Linked DNA regions of Homo sapiens: region 1 is linked to region 2. Evidence: fine-mapped expression QTL. A gene starts in region 2. The other region holds a variant in brackets. All regions are shown on one strand. Distances are from middle to middle. Region 1 overlaps ATP5MC2 (ATP synthase membrane subunit c locus 2). Region 2 holds the start of TARBP2 (TARBP2 subunit of RISC loading complex).

Region 1 (8,000 bases), 170 kb after region 2:
GAACAGGGAAGGTAAACTTTTTCTGTAAAGGGCCACATTGTAAATAATTTTAGGTTTTGTGGGCCGCATATAGTCTCTTTTGCTTTAAAACAAAAATGAAGCCTTTTAAAAATGCGAAACTATTTTTTTTTTTGAGATGGAGTTTCACTCTTTTGCCCAGGCTGGAGTGCAGTGGCGTGATCTCTACTCACTGCAACCTCCGCCTTCAGGGTTCAAGTGATTTTCCTGCCTCAGCCTCCTGAGTAGCTGGGATTACAGGCATCTGCCACCATGCCTGGCTAATTTCTGTATTTTTAGTAGAGAAGGGGTTTCACCATGTTGGCCAGGCTAGTCTCGAACTCCTGACCTCGTGATCCGCCCGCCTCGGCCTCCCAAAGTGCTGGGATTATAGGCGTAAGGCACCACACCCGGCCATAAAATTATTTTTAGCTCAATCATACAAAACCTGGCTATGGCCCAGATTTGGCCCTTAGGCCTTAGTTTGCCAACACATGCTCTAGACCAAAGCTGTTCATGAAACTTTCTTCAATGACACAATGATATAAACATTCTAATACATACATACATACACACACATATATATATATATATATATATATATATATATATATATAAATTTTTTTTTTTTTGATGGTCTCACTCTGTTGCCCAGACTGGAATGCAGTGGCACCATCTTGGCTCACTGTAACCTCTGTCTCCCGGGTTCAAGCAATTCTCCTGTCTCATCCTCCCGAGTAGCTGGGACTACAGGCGCCCACCACAACGCCTGGCTAATTTTTGTATTTTTAGCAGAGACAGGGTTTCACCATATTGACCAGGCTGGTCTCAAACTCCTGACGTCAGGTGATCCACTCGCCTTGACCTCCCAAAGTGCAGGATTACAGGCATGAACCACCTCGCCCAGCCTATATTTGTTTTTTTCTTTTTTTTTTTTCCCCAAAGTCTCACTCTGTCACCTAGGCTGGAGTACAGTGGCATGATCTCGGCTCACAGCTCACTGCAACCTCCACCTCCCGGGTTCAAGCGATTCTTCTGCCTCAGCCTCCTGAATAGCTGGGATTATAGGTGCACGCCCCCCTTACCCAGGTAATTTTTGTATTTTTAGTAGAGATGGGGTTTCGCCATGTTGGCCAGGCTGGTCTCGAACTCCTGACCTCAAGCGATTCACCTGCCCTGGCCTCCCAAAGTGCTGGGATTAGTGAGCCACTGTGCCCAGCCAAACATTCTATATTTGCATTGTTGAATATGGTAGCCTCTAGCCACATCTGGCTACTGAGCACTCGAAATATGGTTAGCGTGACTGAAGAACTGAAAACTGAAACTATGTATTTTTAATTAATTAAAACTAAAATTCAGGTCAAGCGCGGGGGCTCATGCCTGTAATCCTGGCAGTTAGGGAGGCCGAGGCAGGTGGATCACTTGAGGTCAGGAGTTTGAGACCAGCCTGGCCAACATGGCGAAACCCCATCTCTACTAAAACCACAAAAATTAGGTGGGCGTCATTGTGTGTGCCTGTAATCCCAGCTACTTGGGAGGCTGAGGCACAAGAATCGCTTGAACCCAGAGGTAGAGGTGACAGTGAGCTGAGATTGCGCCACTGCACTCCAGCCTGGGAAACAGAGCGTTACTGTCTCAAAACAAACAAACAAACAAACAACATGTAGCTAGTGGCTACAGTGTGGGATAGTATAGTTCTAGACCCCCAAATATTTTCTGACCTTTGGAAAGCATATCAGATAACCAGTGGAGGGTCCAACTTATCTTACCTGGCATAACCAATGATGAGGCTCCCAAACACAGTTCCAATCCCAGCCCCAGAACCAGCCACCCCAACTGTGGCAGCCCCAGCTCCAATGAACTTGGCTGCTGTGTCGATGTCCCTTGAAATGGCGCTGGTTTGGAAGCTGCGGCTAGAGACAAGTGAGGTAAGGGGACATGAGACTGCCAAGCTGCTGAGGCTCTGTGAAAAAGAGGCAGGTAGAAGGTAAAGTTTTTTGCTTTGGTAACTTTTGTACCATTTAAAACCCTTTAAGCTGCCAAATCCCATTGTTTCTCCCCCAAACAGAAAATTGTTTAACGCCCTAAAATGCTGGCAAGTAGAACCTTTTAACGTAGGATGTAGACTTCAAATGCCTTTAAGATTCAGGTGTGGTCAAGAAGTGTAAGACTGAGGCCCTAGTCTATTCTTGCTGCCCCAAGGAGATCATCTTCCTAGGACTAAATGCTTCCAACTGAAGTCAGTAGACTAGGCCAAGTAATACCAGTTAGCAGCAGTGCACAGGGGCATGTGCTGCCAGTGGCAAAAGCTGGAGCACTATAGCATACAGTGTATTAAGTGTCCTCCATCTCCACCTAAAGCCCATGGCCTTGGCCATTCATGAATTTTAGCCTGTGATGACTGTCCTCAGCATTCTACCTCCTGGTTCTGGCAGGTAACCCTCCCCACCCATCACCCCCAAAACCACAGTCCCAACTCCACTGTAAGGTACCTCATCTGTCAGTATCTCCGGTCGTTTCAGCACCACTGCAGATAGCGGACGGCTCAGCAGCTGTGAGGTGCTCTTGACCTAGCAGGAATGACATACAGGGGCAGGAAGGTCAAGGAAGACTGGAGAGGAGTTTCAGAACTATGCCACGTTGTTACATCATCAGACAAGATTTTCTTTCCTCTCATGGCCTTTCCATCTTCACATGTACGTTAGAGTTTTGGATCATTCTTCCTTTTAGCAAAGTCTAAATTAAAGAACCACACCATTTCTCTTGCTTCTCAGACTTTGCTTTAAGGAAAGAAAGTCTACTTCCTTTGGGCCATAAGGGAGCATCCAACCTTGCTATATCCTTTTATAGCTCTTGAGAACAAGAAGAAATCTAAGCCTCAGAAGCATTTGCCTCACTCAACAAGGGAAATATATACAGATGCTCCTCAACTTACCATAGGGTTATGTGCCAATAAATCCATCATACTTTGAAAAACCATTTAATACTGCTAACCTACCAAACACCATAGTCTGGCCTTCAATGTGCTCAAAAAGCTTACACTAGCTTACATTAGCTTACAGTTAGGTGAAATCACCTAGCAACACAGTACACCGTAGAGTACTGGTTGTTTACCCCTG[T/G]GATTGGGCAGGTGACTGGGAGCTGTGGGTTCCTGCTGAGTATTGCAACAGAGTATTGTACCACACATTGCTAGCTTGGGAAAAGATAAAGATTCCTAATTCGAAGTATGGTTTCTTTCTTTCTTTCTTTTTTTTTTTTGAGACGGAGTCTTGCTGTATCGCCAGGCTGGAATGCAGTGTCGTGATCTCGGCTCGGCTCACTACAACCTCCACCTCCCAGGTTCAAGCAATTCTCCTGCCTCAGCCTCCCAAGTAGCTGGGACTACAGGCGCCGGCAACCACGCCCAGCTAATTTTTGTATTTTTAGTAGAGACAGGTTTTCACCATATTGGCCAGGCTGGTTTTGAATTCCTGACCTCAGGTGATCCACCCACCTCGGCTTCCCAAGGTGCTGGGATTACAGGCATGAGCCACCACGCCCAGCCCGAAGTATGGTTTCTAATGAATGCATATCATTTTTGCATCATCATAAAGTTAAAAAAAAAAAATCTTAATCTAAAGTTGGGGGCCTTCTGTATGGGTAATGGTCAGCCCACAAGAAAGAAGCCAGTAACTTTCCCTGAACACATCCTTTTGGAAAATAGGAACAAAGATTCATGCTCAAAACTCACCTCCTTCTGGTAGCCTTTTCTGACTAACCCCAAGCCAGTGACACCAAAACAGACACATGGTGATTCATAGCCAGGGCTTTAGGCATCAGATAAAGTGAGATTCAAATCTTAATTCTATTATCAGCAGTGTATTCTCAGGATAAGTCACTTAAACCTTTCTAAGCCTGTATTCTCATTTATGAAATCAAAATATCATCTCTTGGGGTTGATTTGAAGAGTAAATGAGATTATGTATACCAATTAGTAAACTCAGTGAGTGCTAAGGCACATGGTAAATGCTCAATAAATGGTACTCCTTTTTATTTGTGAATGAACCAACCGCCTCCTCTAGCTACTATTTCAAAAATTTCTTCCATACTGTTGTTTCTGAGTCAAATACTTTTCCAATGTGTATTTATGTAAATTTTAGCTTCCTATCCAAATTTAAGTCCCAGAATGAACTCCTTAGCTATGGCTAACTCAGGACAAGATCCTACACACAGTGCATACTCAGTCCAAGTTATGTAATCTACTTATATTTACCACTCTGGATGGCCAGCTTACACGACATATAGTTTCAGGAGTAGGAATAACTTGATCTTGGTCTAGATTCTCATCTCTATTCTTCTCCTAAGATGGCTGGGTAAGAATTAACTGGGCACAGCCAGGCACGGTGGCTCATGCCTATAATATCAGCAATTTAGGAGGCCGAGGACGGCGGATCACCTGAGGTCAGGAGTTCAAGACCAGCCTGACCAACATGGAGAAACCCTGTCTCTACTCGGATCACGAGGTCAGGAGTTTGAGACCAGCCCGGCCAACATGGTGTAACCCCATCTCTACTAAAAATACAAAAATTAGCTGGGTATGGTGGCAGGTGCCTGTAACCCCAGCTACTTGGGAGTCTGAGGCAGGTGAACTGCTTGAACCCGGGAGGCGGAGGTTGTGGTGGATCGCGCCATTGCAGCCTGGGCAACAAGAGCGAAACTCTGTCTCAAAAAAAAAAAAAAAAAAAAAATTAACTGGCCGCCAAGGGATATGGGGCAGGAGAGTATCTAGCAAGCATTCACTCTATCCTGTTACGCAATCATAGCAGAGGGCCTTCCCTCCCCAAGAATCTTTCTTACTTATTTACTTATTTATTTATTTTTTGAGACAGAGTCTTGCTCTGACGCCCAGGCTGGAGTGCAGTGGTGCGATCTTGGCTCACTGCAACCTCTACCTCCTGGGTTCAAGCTATTCTGTTGCCTCAGCCTCCTGAGTAGCTGGGATTACAGGCGCCCGCCACCATGCCCAACTGGTTTTCGTTTTTTTAGTAGAGATGGGGTTTCGCCATGTTGGCCAGGCTGGTTTTGAACTCCTGGCCTCAAGTGATCTGCCCGCCTGGACCTCCTCTCCCCCAGCCTTGCTGTGAAGAACAAGGTCTGATGGAAAGAGAGAGACAAGATGTCTCTCCTTTAAAACTCTCCCAGAAAAGCAGGTACTCACCAAGGAGGGAGTGGAGACAAACTTGGAGCAGGCGAACATTTTCAGGGGGTGAGGAGCTGTGGCAGGAGAGCTGGAATTACAGAAGCAGTATTGTAAACGCTCCTTATTCACTAAACTATATCCTTATTAGCAGAAAAGGGGCCCTAGAAAGCTTAACTGGCCCAGAAAACAGTGACTGACCTTAAGTCATTGGCAGAAATAGAATTAAAACCCTGAAGTCATGACTTCTTCCAGAAACCCCACACAGCTCCCAAGATTTCCTTATAATGAAGTGACTTCCCCTGGTCTGAACAAGTGAACACTTGGGTTCAGGTAAGACCTGTTACCCATTTCCATAGCCTCATGATTTGCAGTTGCCACAGGAATTTTCCCAGAGTGTCTTTTGCCTAAGTTTTCCTTAGTTTTTATTCAAAAGGAACGCTTCTCAAGACTTCATCATCTGGACCTTTAAAAGTTGCCGTTTAGGCTGGGCACGTGGTTCACACCTGTAATCCCAGCACTTTGGGAGGCCGAGGCGGGCGGATCACGAGGTCAGGAGTTCGAGACCAGCCTGACCAACATGGTGAAACCCCACCTCTACTAAAAATACAAAAATTAGCCAGGTGTGGTAGCACGCGCCTGTAATCCCAGCTACTCAGGAGGCTGAGGCAGGAGAATTGCTTGAACCCAGGAGGCGGAGGTTGCAGTGAGACGAGACCACGCCACTGCACTCCAGCCTGGGTGACAGAGCGAGACCCCATCTCAAAACAAACAAACAAACAAACAAACAAACAAAAAGTTGCCCTTTAGAGTCTTTGTAGTTTTGGGAGATATTTGTTGAAGGCCAAGACACTGGAAGGTCTCCAACAATCTCTTTGCTGATCCCTGGAAGTATCTGATTCCTGAAAATACTTCAATTTCCTGTATTAATAAGATGAGGAAGATCAAGGAGGAACTCTGTTATTAGTCTATCCAAAAGGTATTAGTGGCTGGGCGCAGTGGCTCACGCCTGTAATCCTAGCACTTTAGGAGGCTGAGGCGGGTAGATCACGAGGTCAGGAGTTCGAGACCAGGCTGACCAACATGGAGAAACCCCGTCTCTACTGAAAATACAAAATTAGTCGGGCATGGTGGTGCATGCCTGTAATCCCAGCTACTCAGGAGGCTGAGGCAGGAGAATTGCTTGAATCCAGGAGGCAGAGGCTACGGTGAGCCAAGATTGCGCCATTGTACTCCAGCCTGGGCAACAAGAGGGAAACTGTCTCAAAAAAAAAAAAAAAAGTATTAAATTGTGTCTCCCCAAGATCTAAAGAAGATCTGACACCCTATAGGTATCTAAGTTGGTAGAAGTGAACTTACCTCAAACAGAAGGTGAGTTAAAAACCTAAAGGCAGGGTTTCTCCAAGTGAAGTGAGAAGCCCATCTGAACTAGAATTATCTGGGTGGTGTACGTATTAAAAAATGCATATTCTTGGGCGCAACTTGGACCTTCCTGGTCAAGATCTCTGGGGGAGCTAGGTTCAGTGGCTCATTCCTGTAATCCCAACACTGAGAAGCTGGGGCGGAAAGATAACTTGAAGCCAGGAGTTTGAGACCAGCCTGGGCAAACATCAAGACCTCATCTCTACAAAACATAAAATTAGCCAGGTGAGGTGGAAGTGCACCTGTAGTCCCAGCTACTCCAGAAGCTGAGGCAGGAGGACTGCTTGAACCCAGGAGCTGGAGGCTTCAGTGAGCTATGATCACGCCAGTTGTCCAGTATGGGCAACAACGTGAAACCCTGTCTATAAACAAACAAAAAAGATCTCTGGGAATAAGGCTCAAGTGCCCTGTATTTCAAACAAGTTTCCCAGATGATTATTAGGTATACTTAACGCAAGAGCGTGACCCTAAACCCAGTCTTGAAACTGTGGTAGTGGTAGAGGATAGACTTGAACTTGGATCTTTTAAGTTACATGCTTTCTAATATGTCACAGGCTGAAATACTCAGTGAATGCTTAGGGCTATTAAATACCACTTCATTAAATGAACTGAACTCAGATTGTCCCAGGTTAAAACACTTCTGAATCCAACATCTTAATTGCTCTTAATTTATTTTTTGCCCAGGCTATTGTGGAACTCCTGGCATCAAAAGATCTTCCCACCTTGGCCTCCCAGTGTTGGGATTACAGGTGTGAGCCACCACACCCAGCCTTAATTACTTTTAAGTTAATGGATGTCTTCAACTCTTGTCCTATCTAGAACTCTGATTTTTGCCTATATGTAACTCTAACCCAATTTTGCTGCCGTACTATTCAGGTTTTCTTGGGTCAAAATCCAATAGTTCTTTAAGGCTTTTAGAAAAAGAAGGGGTGGTTCTTTTCTAAGGGAATTATACCTTATTATCTTCTTTGTAAAATGCAGCTCTTAGGGGGATTAAGTATGTTCATTTACAAATTAACATACATAAAGAGTTTAATGTGGTGCTGGCATATAATAAACCCACAACAAGGGGTGGCAATTAAGTGATCCCACCATTGGCTATCTAACCATGGCAACTCTGCAATTGTTAGCCTACAACTTGGGCAAAGGCACTATCCAGAATCAGGACTCCAAAATCATCACGGGCTTTTTCCTCAGTGTAGATGAGTCACAGGGGTAGTAACTTAACTATTCCTTTCCTTAAACCTTCTTTTCCTTGTAACAGCAGAATCTGGGGAGGTTAATTAATCCTTCACAGGAAAGCTGGCAGGCAGGGTCTCATGCTGGCCCCACTAGCTTGGCCTTACCCCACCTTTCTGGGCCTGCTGCCTCAACAGAAACCCTCATCTCTAGCCCACCATTTGTG
Region 2 (8,516 bases):
GACTGTGCATTACGAGAGTCCGGGCTGTGAGTGGTAGAACCAAGAGTCCTCTTCCTAGAAAAGCCTGATCCTACCACAGTGTCACCACGAGGGGAAAAGCAATTGGTTTTTAGAAGGGTTCTGCCCTCTTCAGCTATAAGGAAGCCTAGGAAATCCTGAGCCATGTCTAACTTCTTGCCTCCTCTGTCCATAACTGGGATGGATATTTAGCTGGTGTCTCCATGTTGAGAGCTGGGGTTTTCCTAACATTACCCCAGTTGACAATGGGAGTGAGTGGATGAATGATACGCTTGAGGGGACACACTTTTTTTCACCTGTAAGTGTGAGATAGGAGGGAGTGGGGCCCTAAAGCTCAGAGAAACTTCAGTGTCTGGACAGGAAGGCTCAGGGGGCACTTGAGTCCTATCCTTCCTAAATCCTTTCTGTTAGCCTTAGCTTGGTAGGACCCTCTGGCTGAAACTCAGAGCTCCTAGAGCAATGGAGTCCACCTTGAGAACTGCAAGGGAAATGTGTTTAGAGGGATGCACTGACTGTGGCTTGAGACGACTCTGGGTGGGGTGAGGAGACCTCATGTGCACTCCCTTCTGATTGGAGGCCACTCACCTACGCTCCTCTGAAAAAGGCAGCAGATGAGCATCTACAAGGTAGGACTCCTCCCTTAATTCTAAGGGACACCTCACTGTTTCCTCCCACTGTCTACAGAGCCTTGACTCTTCCCTCCTCTCAGTCAAGGCCTTGGTTACCAGCAAGTCTCAACTCTTGTTTATTTTTAAGCCAATGAGTTTGAGGAGTGTTTGTGGGAAAGGGAGGAGGTTTTTGGAGGGCCTGACTGGGGGAGATGGGTTAGGGGAGCCAGAGGAGATGGAGAGAAAGAGGAGGGAGAAACCCACACGTGAATGGGGGAGGGGAGGATGCAACAGCTGGATGGAGGTGAATGCCACAGCTGGAGGTGAATGCCACAGCTGGAGGGGATTAGGAGGATCACAGCTTGAAGGGGAGGGGGACCAACGCCTGGGCATGCAGGAACAGGTGCTCTCTGACTAATCTTCAGGTCCAGCCTGCTGTGTGTGTGTGTGTGTGTGTGTGTGTGTGTGTGTGTGTGTGTGTGTGTGTGTGTGTGTGTGTGTGTGTGTGTGTGTGTGTGTGTGTGTGTGTGTGGAGATGGTGGGTATATCAGTCCTTGCCCTTCCTTTCCTTCCCTAGAGGGGGCCAAAACTCTCCCTCCTCCTTCCCTCTCTCTCTTCCTGAGGATGAGTGGGAGGAGATGTTCTCTTGCCCTCTGTCCTTTAAGTCTGTCCCCCAATCATCCTCCACCCCACCCCAATACGGTCCTTTCCAGCTCTGGAGGCCCTTCGTCTCCAAGCTGGGCCGCGGCATCCCTCCGCTCCATTCCCTTCCTTCCCAGCCCCACAGGCGTCGGGTCCAGGTCCCCAGTTCCTCCATCCCCACAGCCTCAGCATCCCCACGCCATCACCCCGCACCAGGCCACATCTGCATCCCGACCCTCCCTCCACGCCCGGATCCCAGGACCCAGACCCATCCCTGCCCCCCACCCCCCCACAACTCGGCCAGGCTCTCACCTCGGGGGCTCCGCGGCCGCAGCACAAAAGGCGGCGCTGCTGCAGCTCCGCTCCGGATGCTGCTCCCGCCTCCTCCTCCTTCTCCTCCTCCTTCCCTCCTCCCCCCGCTGCCCTCCACCGGACCCGGGGCGCTGTCACAGGCGATGCTCGTGCGGTGTCCGGATGCACGGGTGTCAGCTTCAGCTTTCTGCCCCCACCCCCCGACCCCTAGCCCCGTCCCTGCTCGGCTTGAACTCCCGCTCCTTCCAGGGCCCCCGCCCCTGGCCCCCCGGGACGGACACGCCCTGAGCGGGGGATGCTGCGATGGAGCCGCCGGCCTCTTAAAGGAGCCCGCTGCTGCCATCCGGCGCGCTCCAGGCTCGTACCTGGCCCGCCTGGGCCCCGCGCCTCCCTGCTGGCGGTGTCCTATGGAGGTCCCACCTCAGGCCTCAGGCTGATTCCACAGGAACCCCCTATGACCCGTCTTATAGACTCCTTTCTACATCGGAGAGAGCAGCCCCTCAGTTGGGATCCCTAGCGCTCTGGCATTGCTCCCCCTATCATACCGATCTTGCCAGCTCTCCTTCCCTTGATTGTCACCACTCACTCCAATTTCACCCACTTGGAATTCACTCGGCTCTAGGCCCCATCCTCCTCCAGTGTTCCTGGATGACCCCTCATTATCATTTCAAGATTCCTCTGGACCTCCAACCCCGGCTCAGAGTAAGACATCTTTCTTGACCCCTTCTCAGAACACTCATTAGAACCTTTTTTTTTTTTAATGTGGTCTCTCCCTTTCTCTCTCCAAGGTCACAAGATTTCCCTCAGCCCAGTGGTTGTGCAACTTTGGGGGAGGAGGCAATGGGGCTCTAGGACTAAACAATGCGCGTCTGCTCAACACCCAGATCAGTTGATTAATCTTAGGCGGCCAAAATTCACTTTTGCTCTCTTCAGCTGAGAGACCCAAGACTCATGGAAGAGGGAACAAGACCACCAAGGTGCCTAGTCCTTCTAATCCTGTCGTCCCACATTACAGCCTGATTATCAGGCCCCAGAGGTTTCCTCGCCAGTTAAAGAGAGGTTCACTAGAGCGGTTCTAAAAAGGTTTCACAAAAGAAGCAACACCTGAAGGGAGGTGAAGGACGACCTAGGAAAAGGAAGCAAGTTCTGTGTCACGGAGGCCCAAGGGCAAGGGGCTTAGGCTGTGGGTTGAGGGGACTGTCTGAGACGGACTTAAACCTGCACCAGCTCCAGAGCCCTGCGGAAACAGAGATCGGTCCCCTCCGGCGTCTAGGTAAGGCCCACCCTCCCAGACCGCAAAGAGCCAGGATCCGACGGCAGCCTCTCCGGACCAATCACAACCTTCCTTCATCAAGGAGGCGGGGTCGGGGGGGGCTGACTTTTCCTTGTCTCCGCCCCTTTAGTCGAAGTAACCAATCTCAGTGCACCTAGGGGAAGTAATCGCAATGGGAGTAACCAATGACGCCATGAAGCTTCTCGTGCGTGCTTGACCCTGCCTCTCCAGCTGCGACACAGATGGCGCGCGGGCTCTTGGGTTCTGTAGTTTTCTCGCGATCCAAAAGGCTCCGTGCCCAAGTGAGTCCTTACCGCCTCCCTACCCAGCGGCTTCCCCTCCGCTAGTACGCATGTCCACAGCTTCACGGACCGGGAGAGAGGGGGCGCGGAAGGAAGGAGGCGGGACGGTATTACAAACAAAAAAATACGGCCTTCTCGAGAAGCGACGGCGGAGGGCCCGCTCCTCCCAGAAGGCGGTGCAGCCTGCCCGGGCGAGCCACGCACGCAGAGGGTTGTGGGGCGGATAGCTCCCCTCCAGATGGAGGCTCACGAAGTAGGGTGGGCGGGGGACTCCATATCCCAGCGTGCCCCGCGGCGGGCCCTACCGGCCGCGACTCCGGGCTTGGCCCCGGCCCTAGCTCGTCGGCTGTGTATTGGGGCGCGTGGAGGCTGCAGTCACGGTGGCGCCCGCGGGGACGGAGGAGGGAATGAGTGAAGAGGAGCAAGGCTCCGGCACTACCACGGGCTGCGGGCTGCCTAGGTGAGCCGTCTCGTACCGATTCCTTCAGGGCGAAAAGCGTGGGGCCGTGCGGAGGGAGTAGCGGCGCGGCCCCAGCATGCACCTGGCCTGAGGGTTGTTCCCGGCAAGCACTGGGGCAGTGGGCAGTGGTTCCCGGCGTGCACCGGGGCAGTGGCTGCTGCCTCCAGCTCTAAATAGTTTGGGGTTGGCCCGGTTCCCAGACTGCACTGGAACACTGGGCTTTATGCCCCCACATTCAGTGCATTTGGTGGGTACTGGGTTCCTGGCTTGCACTGTGTCAGGGGGTATGCACTTTCAACCTGCATTGGGGCACAGGATCGTGCCCACCTTAACTGAGGCAGGAGCAATGCATTCTTCCCCCCTTGCTTTGGGGTAGTGGGCCCTACTTTTCCAGCCTGCACCTCCACTTGGAACCCAGCCAATGGATGCTAGACTGTCTGGGGTTCCTTGGACCCTATGTCCCCCATAATGTGCCTAGGTCTGGTATGGAAGTGCTTGGCTAGGTGGGTGCAGAGAGGGGAGGTGTGATGTGGGTCTGTGCCCCTTCCCCCAGTATAGAGCAAATGCTGGCCGCCAACCCAGGCAAGACCCCGATCAGCCTTCTGCAGGAGTATGGGACCAGAATAGGGAAGACGCCTGTGTACGACCTTCTCAAAGCCGAGGGCCAAGCCCACCAGCCTAATTTCACCTTCCGGGTCACCGTTGGCGACACCAGCTGCACTGGTGAGGAAGGCTTGGGCAGCCTGGCTGGGGTGTGCATTTGCAGGTCCCCATGGCTTTGTTTCTTGGAGTCTCTCTCTTCACAGTCCTTTTCTCCAAGGCCAGTGAGGGAAGGAGAGATTTCAGGGGAAAAGCTACTGACTGGATTGGGAGAACAGGGCTGTAAGAAGGTGGGTAGGACGTGGGAGAGTTAGAGGAGCGAGCAGGACTCCCACAGTGATCTGGCAGATCCCCATCACCCTAGAGGAAAAGTAAGAGAAGATAACTGAAATCCCAGTGGAGTATTTGGGGGAGTGAGTGCCTGGCGTGCTGGGCTCTGTTCCCGGTGCTTAACCAAATTCCCGTTTAATTTTAAACCTCAGTCTAACCAATGATTGTAGGTGGTAGTATCCGCCCCCCCGACTCCTCCCCCCGCCCGCCCATGTTGAATATGAGGAAACTGAGTGTTTGAGATAGTAAATGGCTGGTGCATGGTCACATGCCTAGTATGTGGCAGAGTGGGGCTTTTACTCCAGAGCCTACCCTCTCTTATTCCAGCTCTCTGTATTTATTGAGGGAAAAGAAAGTGCTTTGCAAAGGAAATTAAAGCATTTGCGCTCAGAAGTCCACCCAAGGCGTTTGAGCTCAGAAGTCCTGCTTGGCATGGCTTAATTCTGGAAGCTAACGGAAAGATAAGGGCTCTTCCTTCCAGCAATTAGTGAAACACTTCCAGTCTTCAGCAGGGGGAGGTTGGTCAGAAGGGGCTTGATTGATTCCCTCTGGCTACGAGGAGAGAGGCTGTGGGATGCTGGTTTCTTTCCCGTCCTTTCAGTGACCTCCAGTATTGCCCATGCCCCCTCTCTCAGGTCAGGGCCCCAGCAAGAAGGCAGCCAAGCACAAGGCAGCTGAGGTGGCCCTCAAACACCTCAAAGGGGGGAGCATGCTGGAGCCGGCCCTGGAGGACAGCAGGTGAGGGAGGAACCGAGGCATCCCAGAAGCCCTTCAAGGAACCCAGGCCCTGCACCACCCACTCTGCCCCGAGGCCTGGCCAGGTGACACTTAGCCACCCTGACCTGGCCTCTTCCTGAGAGTCCCTCTGGACCTGAACAGGGTTTTCCAGGGCTTCTGCTGCTATGAAGAATTCTTGGGGTGGAGGGGTTGGTTAGCCCCATAGAGGGGTTGTGGCAGTAGGTTGGGGCCTGGGTTAGGGAGGGAGAGGGGTAGAGGCTTGAGGCTAAAGGGAGTTACTCCCCAACATACCTCCTTGTTCTAGCAAGATGTCCTTCCTTCACGCGCAGGTTGGAGTTTGTTGCTCCTCTGGTTCTTGGGTACAAAGATACCCTCTTCTCTGAGACTCTCTTTTCTCAGTCTTTTCGCCGGTGTTTGGCAGCAAAGGATCCGAGGAGGAAGCTGTTGGTTGAGCCTCCCTGATTCTTTGGCTCAATTTGGAAGTTCTCTTAGGGGATTGGGAGGTCAGGAGGACGTGGGTCCCCCACCCCTCTCTTCCCCCTATACATGGGTGTGAATCAAAGGCCCCCTTCCCCTCGGGAAGTTCTTTTTCTCCCCTAGACTCTTCACTGCCTGAGGACATTCCGGTTTTTACTGCTGCAGCAGCTGCTACCCCAGTTCCATCTGTAGTCCTAACCAGGTATCTGTGTCCCCTGACTGCCTGAGGTGGGTGGAGGAAGGGGTTCTGGTTTTTGGTCCCTCAGTCCTTGGACCCAAGCTGGTCAGGCATGAGGAAGTCTGAGAATAAACAGAATGGAATAGTTGGGAACCAGAACTTGAAGAAATCACAGCAGCTGGTAAGCTCTTGGGACAAGAGGTCATTTGTGATTTTCAGACAGCCTTATGAATGATGTCCGACCATGTTTAAGGGTCTTGCAGGCCCCATTTTCTTCTGGGTTGACCACATGTCAGTTCTGTGTTTGAGGCCCATCAGGCACTTCTGGGACTGGAAATACAGCTCTTCTCCCACTGTCCTGGCTTAGATGATACCCAAGTGTTCCAGAATGGAAATGGGCTGGGGCCTGGAGAAGGCCTCCCTTGAGTGGGAGGGGGAAGGAAGCCGGCTAGAGCAGGAGGAGCAGGCTAGATGTGTGGACAGACAGCTCCCCACCCGGTGGAATCGGGAGATGGTAGTCAGGAATCTAAAGTAGTGGTTAGGTTTGGAGCTCATGGGCAGGCTCAGATGGAACCCTTCACCTCAACTTTGGCCCTGTGCCTTTTCCTTCAGGAGCCCCCCCATGGAACTGCAGCCCCCTGTCTCCCCTCAGCAGTCTGAGTGCAACCCCGTTGGTGCTCTGCAGGTGTGTCCCATCCTCATTTCCCATGCATGCCTGTCTTCCCTTGAGCCAGGGGCCATGAGGGAAGGCTATGTGTGTTTGGGGGTGGGGGCGGTTCCTTGTACTGAGGCCCTTTCCACCCCCCTCTCTCCTTCCTCTCACCTAGAGTCTGAGGCTCCTGCGTGGGGACCAGCGTGGGTGTGAGAAGCCTTTTTTCACTCAGCCTCATGCACCCTGTGTCTCCCTTCCAAGGAGCTGGTGGTGCAGAAAGGCTGGCGGTTGCCGGAGTACACAGTGACCCAGGAGTCTGGGCCAGCCCACCGCAAAGAATTCACCATGACCTGTCGAGTGGAGCGTTTCATTGAGATTGGTAACTGGGCAAGAAGGGGTTCTCACAACTCCTCTCCCGCAGCACTCTGGCCCCAGCCACAAAGCAGCTCCTGGCCTCACTCTGCTACACCCCCTGCTCTCTTAGCTTCACAGTCCCTAGCTCAGCCCCTTCCTTTTAGCTTCTTGGCACCCTATTTGTCCCCTTCTCTCTGGCTGACCAGGTTCTCACGTGCATGGGCAGGTCTTGAGTTCCCCTTTCCAGTTGACATTCTGGGGGGACCCTCAATCCAAGTATGACCTGGGTGGAAGCACTGGGTCTGTGGGGAATCATAACCCAGCAGCCCTCTCTCCACATGCAGGGAGTGGCACTTCCAAAAAATTGGCAAAGCGGAATGCGGCGGCCAAAATGCTGCTTCGAGTGCACACGGTGCCTCTGGATGCCCGGGATGGCAATGAGGTGGAGCCTGATGATGACCACTTCTCCATTGTGAGTGGCTCATGTGGGCCGGGCACCGTGGCCCATCCTCCATGCCAGGGCAGGGCTCCAGGGACTTGGGTCTGTGACTCAGCAGTGAGCCTCTCTGGGCCCTAGGTCTGCTTCTGCCACAGTTTTCCTACCAGACCCAGGGTTCCTGGGGCCGACTCAGCCTTGACTGTAGGCCCGCTCTGTAGCTCTGTTACTGGGGTGAGGAGGGATCCCTGGCCATCTGGCCCAGGGCCTGGTAGTTAGAAGGGGCCACCCAGGGATTGACTGGGGGGAGGCAAGCTGGAGGAAGCATTCTTTGTGCTTTGTTCTCCTTTGACGTTGAATGTCTCAATGCCTGGGTCCCACAGTCTCTCGCTTCATCTTTCTCACTGTTCCCATCTTGACAGGGTGTGGGCTCCCGCCTGGATGGTCTTCGAAACCGGGGCCCAGGTTGCACCTGGGATTCTCTACGAAATTCAGTAGGAGAGAAGATCCTGTCCCTCCGCAGTTGCTCCCTGGGCTCCCTGGGTGCCCTGGGCCCTGCCTGCTGCCGTGTCCTCAGTGAGCTCTCTGAGGAGCAGGCCTTTCACGTCAGCTACCTGGATATTGGTATGGCTAGCTGGGGAGCGAGCCAGGGGATGGTGGGGGCTGGACCGGAGCAAGTAGAAGGGGGTGATGATAACGTGAACGCACCCCTCCCCAGGGCTACCTCCCCCAACATTGCCTCCCTCCTCTCTCTTGCTCTCCAGAGGAGCTGAGCCTGAGTGGACTCTGCCAGTGCCTGGTGGAACTGTCCACCCAGCCGGCCACTGTGTGTCATGGCTCTGCAACCACCAGGGAGGCAGCCCGTGGTGAGGCTGCCCGCCGTGCCCTGCAGTACCTCAAGATCATGGCAGGCAGCAAGTGAAGCCCCAGCTGGACTCATGGATGTGCACCCTTTGCTCCCTGCTCTTTCTGCCTCTGGGCTCATGTATCTGCGCAGCTCTGGTACCCTCTGTGGGTGCCATCTCTACCTCTGACACAGACTGCCTGCCTTGAAGCTGAGAAGGCACAGGGCAAGGAGCCAAGGACCACAGAGCCTCAGCCAGCCCAGGATCCGTCCTCATTTTATTGGTGATGAT

Evidence for each region.
Region 1: its variant is fine-mapped to the expression of TARBP2 in pancreas (GTEx, PIP above 0.99).

What each region holds. Positions count from the first base shown.
Region 1 is chr12:53,667,382-53,675,381 of GRCh38, forward strand. ATP5MC2 (ATP synthase membrane subunit c locus 2) reads right to left here. Exons shown (of 5, transcript NM_005176.7): 2 at 5,195-5,264; 3 at 2,490-2,567; 4 at 1,767-1,960. The coding sequence starts at 5,233. Among named protein-coding and RNA genes, the nearest start is that of ATP5MC2, 4.7 kb to the right of the region's middle. The variant T/G (reference allele first, on the strand shown) is at 3,117.
Region 2 is chr12:53,497,847-53,506,362 of GRCh38, forward strand. It overlaps TARBP2 (TARBP2 subunit of RISC loading complex), which reads left to right and starts at 3,437. Exons shown (of 9, transcript NM_134323.2): 1 at 3,437-3,615; 2 at 4,169-4,338; 3 at 5,181-5,283; 4 at 5,867-5,962; 5 at 6,551-6,623; 6 at 6,852-6,969; 7 at 7,289-7,416; 8 at 7,803-8,004; 9 at 8,145-8,516. The coding sequence starts at 3,563. The coding sequence ends at 8,302. MAP3K12 (mitogen-activated protein kinase kinase kinase 12) reads right to left here and starts at 1,612. Exons shown (of 14, transcript NM_001193511.2): 1 at 1,581-1,612. RefSeq lists a silencer at 1,729-1,978 and an enhancer at 3,072-3,371.